Linked DNA regions of Homo sapiens. The gene in region 1 interacts genetically with each later gene. Each region holds a gene or a part of one and is shown on either strand. Other genes may lie near its edges.

The links.
Region 2: changes in PRKCD (region 1) and CDC25A together harm fitness more than expected from each alone (negative genetic interaction), as found in Homo sapiens cells (one large-scale study listed by BioGRID).
Region 3: changes in PRKCD (region 1) and CDC25B together harm fitness more than expected from each alone (negative genetic interaction), as found in Homo sapiens cells (one large-scale study listed by BioGRID).
Region 4: changes in PRKCD (region 1) and CSF3R together harm fitness more than expected from each alone (negative genetic interaction), as found in Homo sapiens cells (one large-scale study listed by BioGRID).

Annotation. Positions count from the first base shown.
Region 1 is NC_000003.12:53,187,766-53,192,826, reverse strand, and holds the end of PRKCD (protein kinase C delta type), read right to left. Parts: intron 4,108-5,061; coding exon 3,969-4,107; intron 3,770-3,968; coding exon 3,581-3,769; intron 2,955-3,580; coding exon 2,826-2,954; intron 720-2,825; coding exon 561-719; 3' UTR 110-560; downstream 1-109.
Region 2 is NC_000003.12:48,178,403-48,182,706, reverse strand, and holds part of CDC25A (M-phase inducer phosphatase 1), read left to right. Parts: intron 1-910; exon of another isoform or gene 911-1,230; intron 1,231-1,866; coding exon 1,867-1,986; intron 1,987-4,304. UniProt on the Homo sapiens protein: Tyrosine protein phosphatase which functions as a dosage-dependent inducer of mitotic progression. Directly dephosphorylates CDK1 and stimulates its kinase activity. Also dephosphorylates CDK2 in complex with cyclin-E, in vitro.
Region 3 is NC_000020.11:3,802,021-3,806,324, reverse strand, and holds the end of CDC25B (M-phase inducer phosphatase 2), read right to left. Parts: coding exon 4,225-4,304; intron 4,045-4,224; coding exon 3,949-4,044; intron 3,596-3,948; exon of another isoform or gene 3,517-3,595; intron 3,416-3,516; coding exon 3,353-3,415; intron 3,218-3,352; coding exon 3,119-3,217; intron 2,922-3,118; coding exon 2,788-2,921; intron 1,757-2,787; coding exon 1,645-1,756; intron 1,505-1,644; coding exon 1,364-1,504; 3' UTR 210-1,363; downstream 1-209. UniProt on the Homo sapiens protein: Tyrosine protein phosphatase which functions as a dosage-dependent inducer of mitotic progression. Directly dephosphorylates CDK1 and stimulates its kinase activity.
Region 4 is NC_000001.11:36,480,099-36,484,983, forward strand, and holds the start of CSF3R (granulocyte colony-stimulating factor receptor isoform a precursor), read right to left. Parts: upstream 2,816-4,885; 5' UTR 2,713-2,815; intron 1,440-2,712; 5' UTR 1,380-1,439; intron 1-1,379. UniProt on the Homo sapiens protein: Receptor for granulocyte colony-stimulating factor (CSF3), essential for granulocytic maturation. Plays a crucial role in the proliferation, differentiation and survival of cells along the neutrophilic lineage.

The DNA.
Region 1 (5,061 bases):
TACAAACACATTTGCATGAAGGCCCAGCAGTTGGCTTCCGGGCCAGTGCTGCCAAAAGTGGGAGTGGCCACCACCAGCTTCCTGGGACAAACGTGTCCTGACAACCAGGTTGGTACTATTTGGTGTTTATTTAGACACACAAATAAACCTGGTGGTTCAAACAGCTTGTGCTCCTTTTTTTTTTTTTTTGTCATATATATATTTTTTTGAAAAAGATCAACATATCACCAGTCCCCCATGGTTTTTCTCTACTGAGCAATATATACAGCCTATTATATATATATATATGTCTATGTATATAATATATATTTTCAATAGATAACTACATTCAAGTAATGAAACACAGGATTTACAATTTCCCTCCGAAGGCAGAGGAAAAGCAGATTCACACACAGTTCACAGAGGAAGTACCATGAGAGCCCGGCCAGACGGCAGCCAAGGACGCTCTGGGGGCAGGGGCGGGGCCAGCAGCAGAAGTCACCACAGTCCCACTGGTGCTTATCGTGGGGAGCGGGCAGGTGTGGGTGGAGGGCAGGGCTAGCCTGATCTGTCCAGGAACCTCAATCTTCCAGGAGGTGCTCGAATTTGGGGTTCACAAAGGAGAAGCCAGCGAATGCAGACTGGTCCATGGAGTCGATGAGGTTCTTGTCGCTGTAGGAGAGGCGCGCCTTCTCGTTCAGGAACTCCTGGTCAAAGTTACTGTAGTCTCTGGGTGACTTCTACAAGCAGAGGGCAGGGGTGAGCGAACAGGACCTAGGGAATGGCCCTCCAGACACCCCAGGCTGGAGTCCCTGCAGGGCTGGGCCAGGCCAGAGCTGTCCTCACCCAGAACAGAAGACAGAGCCTCCCCTAGCAGCCTGAAAGGAGCCCCATGGGAAGGAGGCTGCCATTTCCCCAAGAGGATGAGGAAAGTGACCAGGGAGCTCTGGGCCTGGGTTAGGAGAGGTGGTAGCCTCTTGCTCAGAGACCACCGAATCACAGCCCAGGGAGGCTCACTTACCACCTGTTTTTGTGGGGACCACAAGCTAAGAATGGCTTTCACATTTTTAAATGGTTGGAAAAAAAATCAAAAGAAAAATATTTCATGACATGAAAATTAGGTGAAATTCAAATTTCACTTTCCATAAATAAAGCTTTTGTAATACACAACCATGCCCATTTGTTGACATACTGTCTATGCCTGCTTTGAGACCATCAAGCCTGAAAAGCCTAAAATATATACTATCAGGCTGTTTACAGGAGAAATTTGCTGATTCTCTGCTCCTGAGGATATGATGGGATGGTAATATAGAAAGACCGCAAGCTGGTGGCCCTTCAGCCAAACTGAACTGGCAAGTACAATCATTTCGGCTTGTACTGGGTTTTAATGGAATTTGAACCTATATTTTATTTATTTATTTTTATTTATTTATTCATTTAGAGATGGAGTCTCACTCTCTTGCCCAGGCTGGAGTGCAGTGGCACGATCTCGGCTCACTGCAACCTCCACCTCCTGGGTTCAAGCGATTCTCCTGCCTCAGCCTCCTGAGTAGCTGGGATTACAGGTGTGCACCACCGTACCCGGCTAATTTTTTTTGTATTTTTTGTAGTAGAGACGGGGTTTCACCATGTTGGCCAGGCTGGTCTCGAACTCCTGACCTCAGGTGATCTGCCTGCCTCAGCCTCCCAAAGTGCTGGTGTGGGCCACTGTGCCCGGCCTGAACTTATATTTTAAAATTGAGCAATGCAACCTAAAAATCCAGATTTCCAGCTTCTTTTGAAAACTGGCAGATTAAAGCAGCCCTGGGCCCACTTCCTGCCCACTCTTGGTGCTAAGAGCCCCCTGGACAGCCCCTGCCCCACTGACAAGGGGTACATCACACCTGCTTTGTGTTTCTTAGTGCGGAGAAGGAAATCTATCAAAAGTGAGACTGAAAGCAGGCTGTGTGATTTTCTTGCAGCTGGCCTAGCCTGTCAGTTACATGCTCAGCCAGGACACGTCTGAGTTTGAGGTCCCTGGTGTAGGGGAAGTGCTCTGTAGCCTCAAAGCACAAATGTGGGGCGCATTACACAGGCTGCCCAGTGGGAACTGTGTGCCCTGGTGGAGGAGGGGAATCAAAGGACAGAAGGGGAGTGGGAAGGAAGAACTGTGGTCACAGAGGGGCCACACAGCCCCAAATTTCTTAGTGGCCCCACCTGCCTCTGCTCTCAGGCTGGTTCCTTGGTAGCCCTGTAGATTCTGGGCCTGTGAGTGAACCAGCCCCTCTTCCACCTGGAATGCCTCCCAGCTGTCCCTTGTCTCACTTCTTCCAACGGGGCCTCTCAGACCCACCCTCTTCTCTGCCACCTGGGTTCCTGCTGACAGACCCACTCAATAGCAACGGATCATGTGTCCTGGGGCATCTCTTATACTGTCATCTCGTATCACAAATTGTCATAGGTGTGCAAGTTTCTTATCTCTCCAACTAGCTGAGAGCTCCTCCGGTTCTGGGACTGCATCTCCCACTTTGCTGTGCAGCCCAGCACTGTGCTCTGCATTCAACAGGGACTCAGGATTCCCCATATGTATTGGAAAATGGATTGAATGGAGCGATAAAGTGAGGTCTTAACTCTATTTCCCAAAACAGGGTCCTCTGCATACAGTGGGATCCACAGTCCCCAGTGTGTGCTGAATGACTGAGTCAGGAGGGAGAGGATGAGAATACAAGGGCAGCGGCTGTGACTGAACATGCTATGGAGATTGCTGGAAGAAGGGAGAGGTGGAAAGCGTGTGAATGATGCAGGAGAGAGGGAGGGCAGGAGAGGAGTAGCTCAGCCTGAAGGCAGCACAGGGCAGGATCACATACCACTTTGGGCCTGAAAGGTGGCTCCAACCTCCGCTTTTCCAGCAGAGTCCAGTTTATGGTCTTGAAGAAGGGGTGGATTTTGATGTTTCCGGTCACTCCCAGCCTCTTGGTTGGTTCCCTTTCAAAGAGCTGCAACCCAGCAGGGACCCTGGTTAGCACCCAAGGGCCATGGGAAATTGGAGCTTCAGCAAATCCCCAGCAGGCCCAGGGATGCAAAGCCAGGCTTGCCCCAGCCCCAGTCAGCCTGGGGAACGGTGGGGCTGAGGGAGGCCACTCTGGCCTGCAGTGCTCCCAGCTCCCCCGGAGATGACAGGCTCTGGGCTGGACATCTGCGACTCTGCTGGTGGAACTTTTTATTATTTACTATCTGCCTGGCCCACAGCTGAGCATCATATGTTTCTATTTTCTTCCCAACAACTCTGTGAGTCAAGTCTGCTCATAGCCCCATTTTACAGATAAGGAGACAAACTCTGAGAGGTTAAGTGACCAGCTAGTCCCAGGCAGAGCCAGCATTTGGCCTCGGGTCTGTCTCCTGACCCTGGGCCCTTAGTCACCATGTCAGGCTGATTCTATGCACAGGACTCAGACAGGAGTTCCTGGGAACATGGTGAGAGAGCAATACCCCGTATGTTAGGACTGCAGCACCACTGAGGCTGCCATTCCAGAGACAGGAAGCTCCTCACCCAAAGCCCAGTGTCTGCCAGCCCCTGCCCCAGCCCAGCCCAGACCAGCCCAGCCCAGCCCAGGGCCTCCACCTTCTCCAGGATGTCCTTGGACTCCTTGGTGATCCAGCGGGGATAATGTGGCGTGTCCACACGGATGGACTCGAAGAGTTCATCCTCATCATCACCATGGAAGGGGGACTGGCCAATGAGCATCTCGTACAGAAGGACCCCGAAAGACCACCAGTCCACAGAGAATGTGTACTTCAGGCCCTGTAGGATCTGGCGGTGGGGAGAGCAGCAGGTCAGCAGGAGCTGAGGTGCTGAGGCTGAGAGGGGCCCCTGGGCACGAAGCCTAGCCAGGCCGCCTCAGCCTATGGGCTTTGGCTTGGACATCACTGCCCTTGGGAATCCTTCCCTGGCCCACCGTGGGGAGGCAAGGTGCCTGACTGAGCGGGGGGCTGGAAGGGTATCGGCTCACCTCAGGGGCGATATAGTCAGGGGTGCCGCAGAAGGTGCTGGCCCGGCTCTCCCCGAATATGTTCTCTTTGCACATCCCAAAGTCGGCAATCTTGATGTGGCCATCCCGGTCCAGCAGCACATTGTCCAGTTTGAGGTCCCTAAGGACAGGGGACAGGTAAGAGTCAGCAGGGGACATTTCTTCTCCTTCCAACCCTGCCCCCCATGTCCTAATTTTCAGCCGTATTAGTCCAGGACTGTCCCCAAGGGTACAAGGGAATGAGAAACAGAAAAGGAAGCAGAAGGAGAAAGAGATCCTAAAAACAGGTGCTTCTTGCAAGTCCCCTACTGTGTGCTAAACGCTGGGCATACACTGCCCTACTTCCTGAAGCCCAAATGGGGCTCAAACAGGTGATGTCACTCGCCCAGGGTCCCCTAGCAGTCAGCAGCAGAAGTGACCCCCAGGTTCAGGTTTGTCTACTTCCCACAGGCAGAGACCATGTCTATATTTAGTAATTAGTCATTTGAGTATATACTTAATGCATATGGGAACTAGAAATGGCAAACAGTACAAAGTCTACCTTCCACTGAGCTCAATCATGAGGCTCTCCTTAGAGCAATTCTAGGCGTGGACAAGCATATGGCAGCATGCAGCTCGCTCCCACCTTTTTTTTTTTTTTTTTTTTTTTTTTTGAGACACAGTCTCATTCTGTCACACAGGCTGGAGTGCAGTGGCATGATCTCAGCTCACTGCAACCTCCGCCTCCCGGGTTCAAGCAATTCTCCTGCCTCAGCCTCCTGAGTAGCTGAGATTACAGGCATCCACCACCATGCCCAGCTAACTTTTGTATTTTTTAGTAGAGACAGGGTTTCACCATGTTGGTCAGGCTGGTCTCGAACTCCTGACCTCGGGTGATCTGCCCACCTTGGCCTCCCAAAGTGCTGGGATTACAGGCGTGAGCCATCGCGCTCAGTCTCCCTCCCACGTTTTAAAGGCTGAATGCTAATATTCGATATACACTTTCCCACAGGTTGTTTTTCCACTTAACAACATATCTTGGCATTATCCCACATCAGTATACAGAGCCTGACCTCAGCCTTTTTGGTGGGTGTAC
Region 2 (4,304 bases), 5.0 Mb from region 1:
ACCTTTTAGGGATGTTGTGGCAATAAGTAAGATTATGTATGAAGTATTGAAAATGGTGCCTGACAGGCGGGAGTTGCTCAGATTGTAGCTCACAGGAGTAATTACATGTACAAATAGTGTTTGTCTGGAAGGCTCTGCCCAGGCTGTCCTTGCCTCTTTGCTCTGACCCTGAAATGAATTGTAAGCTTAGGAAAAGGCTCTTTGGCAGTATTTGTAAGAACGGGGTCAACAAGTTCTAGGGAATCTCAGAGTAACTGAAATGGTGGCTTGGAAGGTGAATTTCTGGTTATCTACCCTGAATGAGCCTGGCTTTTTTGTTCTTTTAGACATTGCACAGAGTAGGCATCCAAAACAGTTGTAATTTTTTCAGCCTTCTCTCTACTGTATTTCTATATATTTACTTTCTCCCCTTTTCCATTCCTGCTGAAATGCCACAGTTCATAATCCTTGTCCTTACAATCTTCAGGTTTAGTGTGAAACCCACTGCCTCCATGAACTCTCCTGATGATTTCTTTATCAACCTGGGAAGTGTCATGAGAAAGAATATGGAAATGAGTTCCAGCCTTGAGTGCTTGGAACAGTGTATCAGCCTCTAGTGCTTTTTACCAGGGCAAAGCTGTACTGATGCCTGGTTTTCCCCCGAAATAGCTTCTCAGGGTTGCTTGCCTGGAGCTTTGTTTTAAAGGGAAAACAGCATAGATGGTGGTTAAAGAGCTCTCACTCTGGAGTTGTCCTGTTTTACTTCAATATTTTGGGCACATTCCTTAACCTGCAAGGTCTAGTTTTCTCACCTGTAAAATCGGGACAATCAGGTTGTATTTGATGGTTAAAAAGTTAATGCACAGAAAGTACTTAGTACTGTGTTGGCATAGAAATCACTGTAATATTAGCCATTACTGCTTTTTTTTTTTTTTTGATTCTTCATGGTTTTATTTCTCTCAGAACTTTAAAATGTGAACATTCTATAATTCAGCCAGTCTTTACTTCCAGGTAACTTCTTTATTGGGTCGCAATACCCTTTTAAATAACATGCTCTTGTTCCGGAAGGTAGTTAGCCGTTCATCACTCTTTCTGTCTAAATAACATCCAGTGACAAATCCCATAGGGACAAGAACATGAACCCAGTGGTCCCGCACAATCTGAAGTAAGTTCACCATGATAGCTGCAGCCTCAGTGCCGACCGCGACCCCGAGACCAAGGGCAACGGGGAACTCAGCCACCCACGCCAGTGCTAGCCATTACTGCTTTTAATACTTAATTATGAGTTCTTAAGTGAATATTTTAGGGCAAGGGACCTGTGAGTGTTTTCATTCCATAAAGTGGAATCATACGATATGTATTCTATCATATCTGGCTTTAAAAAACATTATGCTTGTAAGAATCGTCCACGTTGAGTAAACCAGTAGGGCTTTTTTTTTTTTCATTGCTTTTAGTATAGAATAGAATAATTATAAGTAGAAAAAATTATCTCCAGTTGGTAGGAAGAGGTGGAAAATATGAAGCCCTGAAACAGATGGACCTAGATGGAAAATTTTGACAACTATTCACAGGCAATTATATTAGATTTTATTTATTTTTGCTTTAGATTTCAGAAAGTTTGTGATTTAGCTTATTCATCGTGTTTTGTATATTTGGCAGATACTTGTGTTAGGAAATACAGTATGACAAGAAAAAGATGTTACTTTAGAAGTTAGCTGTTGACAGAGCCTTGGAAATTCTTAGTTACGCAGATCTATTGTTGGAATTAGGTGAAACTTTAATTTGGAGGCAGAAAGGTGATCAGTGCCCACTTTCTTGCCTCTTTCACCCAAGCTGAGGCCTGAGTTGGTTTTCATGGACAGTAGATGTCTCAACTATGTCTTGCAGGAAGCCTTTGAGTTTAAGAAGCCAGTAAGACCTGTATCTCGTGGCTGCCTGCACTCTCATGGACTCCAGGAGGGTAAAGATCTCTTCACACAGAGGCAGAACTCTGCCCCAGCTCGGATGGTATGTGCTCTGGCTTTCATAGGGGAATTCCTGACAGGAAGAAAGGATTAAAACACCTTCTTTCATCCAGAATTGAAGGCACTACAGTAGCACTAGCTGTTTTTACCTTGACTTTGTCTTTTGAAATTAGACTGTCAAGCATTCTTGGTGGTTTTGCTGTGTCTGGAGAACAGACAGGCGGTAGTAAGAGTGGGAGATGGTGTTTGAAATATTGGAGTTGTGCAAGGAATAATCGACCTTGTTAATCTGGGAAATCCTGGGTCATCCTAAATGTATGTATGGTGGGATTATATCTCTTCCTATTTTTTTCTTTTTTTCTTTTTTTTTTTTTAAGGGCTTTCTGGCAAAAACCGGAAAGCCTGCGAGACAAATTTTAAAAGAGCCGTAACACTAGATCTCTTACTTAAAACTTGGTCTTTACTATGCATTCTAAGTGCTTCTCAAGGAACTGGAGAGAGAGCACTTGACTTCTTCCAAAGGTGGTTTGTTAAGAACAGTTATGGGCCAGGTGCCATGGCTCATGCCTATAATCTCAGCACTTTGGAAAACTGAGACAGGAGGATCGCTTGAGTCCTGGGCAGCATAGTGAGACCACATCTCTATTTTTTTTATTTTTAATTTTTTTAAAGAACTATTATGGATTACAGTGAATGCTCAGGCTGCTGGGCAGTTTTGGGGTCACTCGTTTCAGGGCTATGTATTTGCCAGACAGGGACTGTCATTACTTCCAAAGTTTCCTGCTGTTGGTCTGAATTGGATTAACTGATAGCATCTATAGATTGGAGAGGCCCAACTTGAGCAAGATGACCACATTTGGCTTCCAGGTTTACCTAGGATCTTAAATCTGAAAATATACCTTTCCAATCTGCTTTGTGTTCTGAGGTTCAGCCAGTATTGTTACTCTGTCTATCATTTGCACAAAGCACTTTTATATGTTCTTGTCTTGTGAAGTGGAGTTAATCCACTTGAACAGATTAGGAAAGTACCACTAGAGAGGTTTGGATGATTTACCAAAGGATATACATAAGTAGGAAACCAGGATTTAATGATCTCTGGCTGGGTGTGGTGGCTCATGGCTGTAATCCCAGCACTTTGGGAGGCCGAGGTGGGAGGATCACATGAGGTCAGGAGTTCAAGACAGCCTGGGTAACATAGTGAGACCCTATCTGTACAAAGTTAAAAAATAAGCTGAGTGTGGTGGCTTGTTCCTATAGTCCCAATTAGTCGGGAGGCTGAAGTGGGAGGATTGCTTGAGCCCAAGAATTCGAGGCTGCAGTGAGCTATGATCAGACCACTGTACTCCAGCCTGGACAATGAATCCCTGTCTCAATAAACAATCTCTAAATTCCCAAGTACACAGTAATGCTTTAAGAGTTGGGTATCAGAAACAATATATTTGGTGTGTGCTTAGCGACTAGAGCCTGTATCACATCTGCACCTAGGAATCCCAGAACATACCTCACAAATGTTGGTGTGATATAGTGTGAGCTTTCGTGATAAAGGTACTGCCCCATAATAAAGTTATCTACCCCTAGGCTAAAAAAATTTGCCATTTCCCAGAGTGTGCACTTGGGGAGGACTAGAGACTGCTCAGAACTTGTTTTATATTGTGAAGCAAAGCTAATGCCAGAACCAGAATAGGCCAGCTGCAGAGAGGATTCCTTGGTGCATGATCCACTCAGAAAATCAGAGGGCCACTTAACTAACAACAGATTCATACCCCAAAGAGATTTGGATTTTAAGGATTACTTGTAGGTCATAACATTGGGACTACCCTGCTACTGTGAAAAAAATAACTCTAAACTTTTTTTTCTGGATTTGAAAGTGCCTAGAAAATAAATAATTCAGTATTAGCAGTGTTTGTATTGGTAGGATTTATCTTCAGGTGTGGATTTATGAGCAGTTTTTCTAAATTTTCTATATTCCATGTTTAGAGGTTTCCCAAAAAAAGTATGACTATAGGTTGGCTAATGAGGTACCGCCATTTTAATTCCAGGAATGGTTTTCTCCTAGGGAGATAGTGTGGTGAGAAGAGTTTGGATTTTGGAGTCAAACAGATGAGGTGTATAATCTTGGTAACCTCTTAAGCACCAGTTTCCTGATTTGCTAAAGAAAAAGGAAAGGATTAGCTACCTTTAGTGTATTGTGAGGCTTCTATTGGATTATATGTATAAAGATTATATCGTAGTATCTGGCACACAGTAATTCCTCGTTTAAAAACTGAGCATTTAAATCCCAAGTCTAAAGAACGAGGATAGATTTTATAGAAGGAAGTTACCCTTTATTCCCCCCTGTCAGAACTGGAGTTATATATAAGT
Region 3 (4,304 bases), on another chromosome or scaffold:
GGCCAGGTGAGGGGAAGGAGGGGTTGAATCCAAAGTCCTGGCAGGAGTGTCACCCAAGAGATGGAAGACATTGGGAGAAGAAGGGACAAGAGCATGAGGGCACCTCTCCAGCAACTCTTCCTGCCTTTGCTGACCCTGTCTCCTACCCCAATCCCGCCATTGGCGGGCTTCTGGGGTCTTGCCCAGGGCCCCACAGGACACAATGCTGGTTTCTCAACTTGCTCAGTGCTTTATTGAACCAAGGCCCTAACAGATGACTCAGCAGGGCCTTCAAGCACAGCCCTGCCCCCATCTTGAGATTCAGAATCCAGAGGGTGCTCAGTCCTTGGTTTAGCTGCTTCTGTGACATTTCCTCTTGAATAGCTCCAAACCCTAAGTGTAAATATTTTTGTCCACACAAATAGGCACACATATATTCCTGCTGCAGGCTGTCATGCTCAACAAAACGCTCCCACCTGGTTTGGGTATGCAAGGCACTGCGCATCCACGGCCATCCACGGCCATCCACCCATCCATCCAACCTTCCATCCATCCGCAACAAGACAGCAGCAAGTTCTGAGCAGTCAGGCCCCAGGGTTCACAGCAGTAGGGGCTGGGCTTCCAGCAGGCTCATGATTCAGGCCTTAACCCTTGCCCTGGGAGCCCCCAAGGATAATAACATCCCTTTCTGGGGCAACAAAACTGGGACCGAGTGGGTAACTGATATTTGACAGGGGAACCTAAACAGTCTACGGAAGTGTCCTGAGATGGGCGTAAAGTCAAACAGACCAAGCACACAGGTAACACTGAAATAGGAAAGAGTAAGAGCTTCTGTTCAGGCTGGAGGTGCTCGTATGGTGGGACAGGAAAGGGGAAAAGAGAAAGGGGCAACATGGCAGACATACCACGGTTCCTACAGAGATTAGGGGCAGCCCTGGCCCGGGAAGTACACAGGGCAGAGAGCTGACTCTCAGGCCAGGAAGGAGTTTAGCTCTGACCCATCCTCAGGGACCACGGCTCTCCCCCAGCCTCAGCTGACACACACACAAAGGAGCGTTTCAGGACACAGGAAGATGAAGGGTTAACCCTAACAAGGAAACAAGAAGCTCCTGGAGGACACAAAATACTGCCTTTAAGCTGGTATTAACCCAACTTAACTAACTCAACAGACTGGGCTCTTCCAGGGGTGGGGGGCACCAGGATATGGAAAATGATGGGATGACACAGGGGAATCTGGGCTGGGGCAGACAGGCAGGACACCCACACCATCTTTCCCATGGACAGCACCTGAGGCCTCCAGCAGGCCCTCAGCCCGGCAGGCCCATAGGGCAGCTGGCTTCAGGCCTCGAAAGGCAAGGGAGGTAGCAGGACTGGCGCAGGCCCCTCACTGGTCCTGCAGCCGGCTACAGAGCTCCCGCCGGCTCCGCTCCCCAGCCCAGCTGCGAGTCTTGAGGCGGAAGGTCTTTAGCTCATCCTTGAAGGCCTCGTGGTTCATGGGCCGGTAGTCCTGGGGTTCACAGAAGTTCTAGGGCAGGACAGGAGGGGTCAATGCAGTGGAATGGGTAAGTTTGGCAGGGACCCAACCCTCCCACCCCCCATCCCATGGCTCCAGCCTGGCCAAGCCAACCCTCACACAGAGACTGTGGCCTTCCCCACCCACGCTACCGGGTGCTGAGGGAAGAACTCCTTGTAGCCGCCTTTCAGGATATACATCTCAGGGTAGTAGAGGCTGGGGTAGTCGTTGACAGCACGGTCTCGTTCCCTGATGAAACGGCACCTGGGGCGTCATGGGCAGGGTGTGGTCAGAGTGGGGCATGCAGTGGCTTGTACATCATGGGACCTATCCCCCACGTCCCCTCCTTTGAGGGCCTTGGGGAGCCACAGAAAGCTTTAGAGCACAGGAATGTAACCACAAGAACACTTTTAGGTCACTCTGGCTACAGAAGAGGGTGGGGAGGCGGAAGGAAGGAGGTAAAATCAAGGGGATGAACTCTCCGTTTCTAGAAGGCAGTTGCACAATCTTTGTTAGAGATATCTGTGCCTGGACCAGGAAAGGAGAAGCAGGAGAGGAGACAAGTGGGCCAAATTCAAGGGATCCATTCGGGCCACTCCTGGACAAGACCTGGTGAGGATCAGTGGTGGGGAGAAGGGAGGAGGAGGACCCAAGACTGAAGCCAGTGCCCAGGCCCGGTGCCCAGGTGGAGGTGGGTGCCATATGCTGGGATGCCTGGAGAAGTTGGGAGGGCCGCAGGGATGCGACTCTGTAAGGGGCGTCTGGGTGCAGATTCCCACCACATGGGTGAGGCCAGGCTGGGGAGCCACTAGCAGTCATATGGACCAGTGGCAACCCAGGAGGAGGCAGGGGTGGGAGGACAGATGGCCAGGCAGAACAGGAATAGCGACAGAAGGAGCTCAGCCAGGGAGGCCCAGGTGCTGTGGATGCCAATGGAAGAGGTTCTAATGGAGACCTAACAGCACTGAACATGGGGAGGGTCCGTGTACTGGGGACTGACACGCGGCCCTTAGATTTCGAGAAAAGACACCGCTAGAGACTTGGAACTAAATTTTCTGAGGGTGGCAGTAATGGATGTGGGGTGGACATGAGGCTTGATAGGCAGGACAGTGAGGGAGATGGGAGGCGGGTACCATGCACAGTGAAGTGGGGCTGAGGTCAGCTCTAGGCCATCAGATGGGACAGAGGAGGACCTGGACTTGCACCCCTGGCCATCTCAATGGTGCCAGCACCTGTGAGCCTGGGCAGGGAAGGCCAGGGCAGACACTAGCTGGCTGGGCGGAGCTGGGACTCACATGCGGGGCCCACGCTCAGATGAGAATTCACAGTGGAAAATGAGGATGACTCTCTTGTCCAGGCTACAGGGCGCGATGGGGCTCTTCAGTAGGAAGCTCTCGGCGTCGCGTTCCAGGGGCAAGTTCACCGCAGTCTGTCAGAGGAGCCAGAGGTCAGGCACAGCCCCGGGTCCAGGAGTCAGGGCCCTCCCCGTGCAGTCGCTGTCCTTCTCTTAGTAGGAACCCTCCCCATGAGAGGGGGCACCCGTCCTCCACCCATTCACCCTCTTGGCAAAGCAAGGACCTAAACCAGGTGGGATCTTCAGGGCCTCTCCCCATTGCCCCATCTTACCTTGATGTGCCCGCCTTCATATTCATAGGGGTATCTGCAGTCTACAATCACAAACTTATCCACGATGTTGCTGAACTTGCCCGTCAATAGGGCCACCATCTGTAGGAGGTCATGGGGGTTGGTTCCGGCAGGTCAGGCTGGCAGCTGGCAGGTGGCCCTAGCCTGTCCCCAGGGAAGGTCAACAATGGAGCTACAGTCCCAAATCTGCCTAGAAAATGACGCAACGCTGTTTACCGTTTCTGGTGAGATGTACTTGAGGTCTTGGTGCTTTCCGTCTACTGTCTGTAGGAGGAAGGCCTGAAGGGAACGGAAGGGATGAGGGAGAGGGGAGAAAGTTAAATTGGTAAGACCAGGAGCCTCAAAGAATGAAGTTTCATTCCCAAAATCAGAGGCCACACCTGCTTTGGCCTTCAAATTCAGTTCTGGTTCCCATGGCAACTGAGAGGCACCTCTTGGGTCTGACACCCAGGGAACAACCTTCCAAGGGGAAAGAGAAATGAAAAAGGGAAGTGGAAGAGATGAACTCCACACTCTGCTCCCTACCCTCTGCCAAGCCCGAAGGTGAGGCATGAGGGGGTTCCAAGCTAGGTATGAGCTTGGAAATAAGACGGAGACTCAACAGATGCCTGGACTGACTTGAGGTGGAGTCAGGAGACAAGGAGGGCCAGAGGGAGGAGTCTATGTGAGAACAAAGGATGAAAAGATACAAAGGACAAAGAAAAGGGGGGCTCCGGGGAGAAAGGGAGGAACCCAAGCAGCCCCTGGGCTAGAGGACCCCTAGTCAGTAAGAGGTCAAGCCCCCAAGGTACCCCCTTCGCTGCTGCAGGTACCTTAGAGTAATCTCCAATCAGCTCTCGGTGGTCACTGTCCAGGAGGTTCTCGATCTCATCGTGACACAGTGATTTTGAGCGGAGGACGCGGGCTTTCTGGAAAGTGAGTCAGATGGAGGCCAGGGTCAGGGTGGGGCTGCCCCCCAGTGCTCTGGCTGGCTGGTACCCCCTTTCTCTGCCATGCCCAGGCTGCCACCTGCCCTCTGCCACAAACTTAGCCAAGGGGGTGGCTGCCCAGGTGCATGCCAAAGTGAACCCCAGGAGGAAGGCACTCACAGGTTCCTCAGCCTCCTGCTGCTCCTCAGGAGGGGTCACGCTCCGCCTCCGCTTATTCTGCACGGGCGTGTCCCTGTCCT
Region 4 (4,885 bases), on another chromosome or scaffold:
TGGAAAGATTTACCCACTGACTCCTGCCCCCCATTGGTCAAGGGATGCCTCTTGGGGTGTTCATTCCCTGGCACATCCAGGTTGGGCATGCATGAGTACTAGGCAGGTTCTCCTGGGGAAGCCATGCCAGTGTTGTCAGGGACACTCCCTGGAAGAAAGGGAGAACTCTATGGAGCAGCTGAGGCAAGGGGCTGTCAGGTTATGCCTGCAGGAAGCTGGCTGCCTCAGCCATGTGGGCTGAGAGAATATCAAGTGGGGCACCCGAAGGGTCCAGTGTGCCCCCAATTTTGGGCACAGACCTCTGGTGGCCTTCTGGGGTCAGGCATCATGAGGTCACGGCCATAGCACCTGGATGGAGGGTGCCTTGGCTCCAGTCTTAGGAAGTATGCAGAGGTTTCTACCACTTGGGTGGGTGTCCAGCCTCATCTTCACCCTGCTCCCATTGGGGTCTTGGAGCCAACACCTGATCCTCCAGCACGAGTTGGTGCTCTTGGTGGCAGATCAGTGGGAATCGCTGGTCAGCTTGCACGTACATATCTGGACACATACACGCAGGTGGTGTCCCAGCAGATCCCTCGTGCTCAGCAGGGAGAAAGGTAGGAGAATCCTTTTCTCTTCCTCCCAGACAGAGGTGTGGATAAGAACTGCCCAGATACCCAAGGTTGTTACTGCTCACAGGGGTCTTACCCAAACCCCCAGTCTATCCATGTATATATTGCAGTATCGGAATACCCAGTGACTGCTAGCCCGTAAGTCTCCTTTGTGCAAATCAGAAAGAAAGCACCCCTTCCTCTGGATGGATGCAGCACCACACTAGGACCTGGCAACTAGGGAACAGCCTGGATTTCGGCTCCAGTTACTCCTCAGTTTTGTGCAGTGAGAAACCTGTACAAGTATCCCGAGCATCTGTCTACCCATCGGTGGTTGGTAACCTTCTTACTATAGCATACCAGTTTGATTATCCCCCCGCAACACTGGTTGGGGAAGATTTAGCCTCCAAGGCCCAGATTTTGGGACACTGGTTTTCATCTCCATGTGCTTTTGATCCTATCCCAGCCCTGTTGCCCTAGCCAGGGTCAGCTTCAGGCCCAGCCTATGCCCCGTGCAGTACCACCCTATCCGCCTCCACTGGCTCCTGTCCAGAGTAGACAACCTAACCCCAAGAGGCCCCGGCATCCTTCCCCTGGGTGCTGGGTGTTGGCCTGCTTGGCCTCAGTCTCTGGTCCTCCACTGCAGCCCTGGACGTCCCCCAGCCTGGTTAAGTGGGCCTAGGACCTGTTGGAGCATGGTCTCACTCTCTGGGGGGCCGATATGCAGAGAGGTTTGGAGCCCAGCTCAGATTCAGGTCACCTGACTTGATCTCCAGCTCCGCCACTTACCAGCTTTGTGATCTTGGACAAGTTACTTCACCTTTCCGAGCCGAGCCTCAGTTTCCCCATCTGTGGGAAAGAAATAACATTAGCACTCACTCCTCAGCGTTGTTGTGAGGATGAAATGAGATTATTTTGGTAAAGGCATTTAGCCCTGTGCCTTGCATGGAGTTGGCACTCAGCAACCATAGGTTATTTTCACGAGCCATAAATAGCAGGTCAGCAGCTCACAGAATCCAGCACAGTTCAGTTTTCCCCTCACCCCTGCCTCCCTCACAGCCTGTGTGGTCACACCTCCCAGGACTGCCACCTTGCTTTTGTCTGTGCCACACTGCGCAGTTCCAAAGCCCCCTTTCTGGATCCTCTCCTCCTAACTCCTGGGCCCCCTGGCCCTCCTGTCACTGCGGCCATCTCTGCTGGGCTCTGCAGGTGCTCACTCCTGTGGCCCAGCACAGCTCGATGTCTCCTGGGCTGGCTGCCTTCACATTCCCTCTTTCTGTTTCTCCCTCATCACGCTCAGCCCTCTCCCCTCACACTCTCTTCCCCACTTCACACCCCTCGCTCCCTTGCTGTTTCTACTCTCACCTCGAGATTCTTTCTGTGGGAAGGGTGGGGAGGGAGGAGGGGGCTGGGAATAAACAGAGGGGAGAGGCATTTCCAGATATGCTGCAGATAAAGAAAAAGAGAGAGCAACAGGAAGAGTGACAGAGTGAGGCGGTGACTGAAATCCACACAGACTGAAACGACAGAGAGACTCGCCAAGAGGACGATTGAGGCCAGAGAGATATCGAGAGACAGAGAAAAAGGGCCCAATGTACGCCGACCCAGAGAGTGGGCGGGGGGGGGGCACTCGGAGGCCTGGAGCCCGGGAAGCGTCTGTTACCGAGAGTTTAAGATTCAAGAGATAGCAGGAAATATGCGAGACAGAGAAACTCAGAGAGATAGCAAGCCAGAGAGAAGCTGAGGAGGAAAGATGGAAACAGAGAGTGAAATAGAGACCCAGACGGGGAGGGGTTGCGCGGCTGGAACTCACAGACACACACGTCCTGAGAGACAGAGGCATGGGGAGGGGAGAATGATTATGCCTGTCCCCAGCCCAGCTCAGTGTCCCCAAGGAGATACTTGGCTGTGAGTGACTTCCCTGGTGCAATACCCCCAAAAGTAGGGGCATCCTGTGAAAAGAGACTCAGTGTCCAGGGCTGGGGTTCCAAAGGACGAATCCCGGGCCCCAGGCCTAGGACCCCGGACATGAACACTTGGCAGAGCTGTGGGGAGTGGCCCCAGGATTCCAGCTCTCCATCAAGCCCAAGGCTCAGCCCCTCTCTAGGGATCCCCTACTCACGTTGGCACCTCTGGCCCAGCCCCTGCTTGGCCTCCTTGGTCTCTCTTCTCGTCAAGAGAAGTTCCTGAAACCAGCTGCAGTCCAGCTTCTCTCCCCGAGCTCTGTCGTTAATGGCTCAGCCTCTGACAGGCCCGGGGGCTGGGGATTGCAACACCTTCCGAGCCTCCCTCCTGCCCTCCCTTGCGCCTTCGAGGGCACAGGCAGCCCCTTCCTCCCAGGAAGGAGCCTGTGAGGGAAGCTGGTGAGGCCCGGGCAGCCTTCCTGCCTTGGGGGTCTTAAAGGGCTGGGGAATGTGGCAACGATGTCCCCCTCCCCTGCCTCCGGATTTCCTGAGCTCAAAGCTTTGAGGCTGGGCAGGGCCCAGGCTCCCACCTGGCTGGGTGCCATCCTTATGCCCCCTGCCCTGGGGGAGCATCACTTGGAGGCAGGCCCTGGCTGGAAGGCTCACCCGGCCCTAAGCCTCTTTTCAGCTCTAGCCTTGGGGACCACATCTTCACAGTACTCAGAAGGGTGTGTTCCAGGTTCCAGGGAATTGTGTAACCCAATACTCACTGCTCCCCTCTTCATTACGTATTCTGTGCATTGCCCATAGACCAGGCAGATGGAGAAACAGGAATTCTGGGGGCAAGACAGGAGGACGTCTTGGTGAGGCACGGGGTCTTTATATGTTCACTAAAAATTAGGAATGTTTACCCACAATGGTTCTGCAACACTGAATATTTTGTAATTGAGTGAAATAGACTACATTTTATGTCTTTTATTGTCTGTATTCATGATTCTTCTAAAACTACAAATAATTTTCTTTGCATTTTCTGAGAAAGGTTCAAACTGCTCATAGTTTATTGGATTCATAACCCAAAAAAGGTTAGGTGCCAACAGACCAGCAGACTGTCCTTAACATATAATCCTTTTGAGGCATCTGGGTCTGGTGTGATGCTGCAGACCAGGGCTGTAGTTCTAGTTCCAAGTCAAATGACCTGACTGCCTGCTGCAACCCTCCCAAGATATCCCACAGGCTCTGCTCGCTCAGTGAGTCCCATGGACTCTCTTCTTTCCAAATATAACCAGAATCCTGGGTATTCACTGTAAAGTTCAACTTGGCTCTACGTTTGAATATTTTTATGATAATATTTGGAAAATATAAATATAACTGAAACCAATACTAGCCAGCTCCAAGCTACCCTCATCTATTGCCTAGATAATCGCAATAGCCCCCTGCCTGCTCTCCTGCTTCTATTTCATCCTTGTTCCCGCACCTGTCTGTAATTCCTTCAGCAGCCAGTGCGATATCAATCAAACAGAAGTCTGATCAGCCCATCCTCGTCCCAACCTTTCCAATGGCTCCTGTCTCATTCAGAGTCAAAGTCAAAGCCCTTTGGATGGTCTACAAGGCCCTACAAAACCTGGTATCCCTGTTACCTCCTGGATCCCTCTCCTGTTATTCTCCCCCTTGCTGCCTTGCTCCAGCTACTCTGTGTTCTTTGCTTCTTGAACTTGTTATGCTGTCTCTTGCCTCAGGGCCTTTGCACTTGCTGTTTCATTTGCCTGGACTCTTTCCCCCGCAAATAGCTACATGGGCTGGTCCCTCCCCTTCTTCAGGTCTTTGCTCAAATGTCACTTTCTCATTGAGGCCTTCTCTGAGCACCCTTTTCAAAATTTGCAAGCCCCTTCCCTCCCACTCCCTATCTCTCTCTCCCCCAAATCCCTTTTCACCATCTGATATTGGCTGTCTCAATCCCCACTAGACTGAAAGTTCCATAAGAGCAACAGTTTTTATCTGTTTTGTTCAAAACTTTATCTCCAGTGTCTATAACACTGCTTGCCACACAGTAAGGCCTCCATGCGTGTTTGTTGAATGAATGATCAACTGGATGAATCTTCCCCCACTTCACCAAATCTGTCTCTAATCCCCACGTACCTTGTCATGGTGAATTAACCACCATCCCCTCCTCTCCCTAGTCATGCAGCTCAGGGACTCAGGAGTCATTCCTTACAACCCTTTCTCCACATTCCCATGTCCAGTCAGTTCTTTTAGTTCTTTTTTTTCTTTCTTTCTTTTTTTTTTTTTGAGACAGAGTCTCACTTTGTCACCCAGGCTGGAATGCAGTGGCGCGATTTTGGATCACTGCAACCTCTGACTCCCAGGTTCAAGTGATTCTCCTGCCTCAGCCTC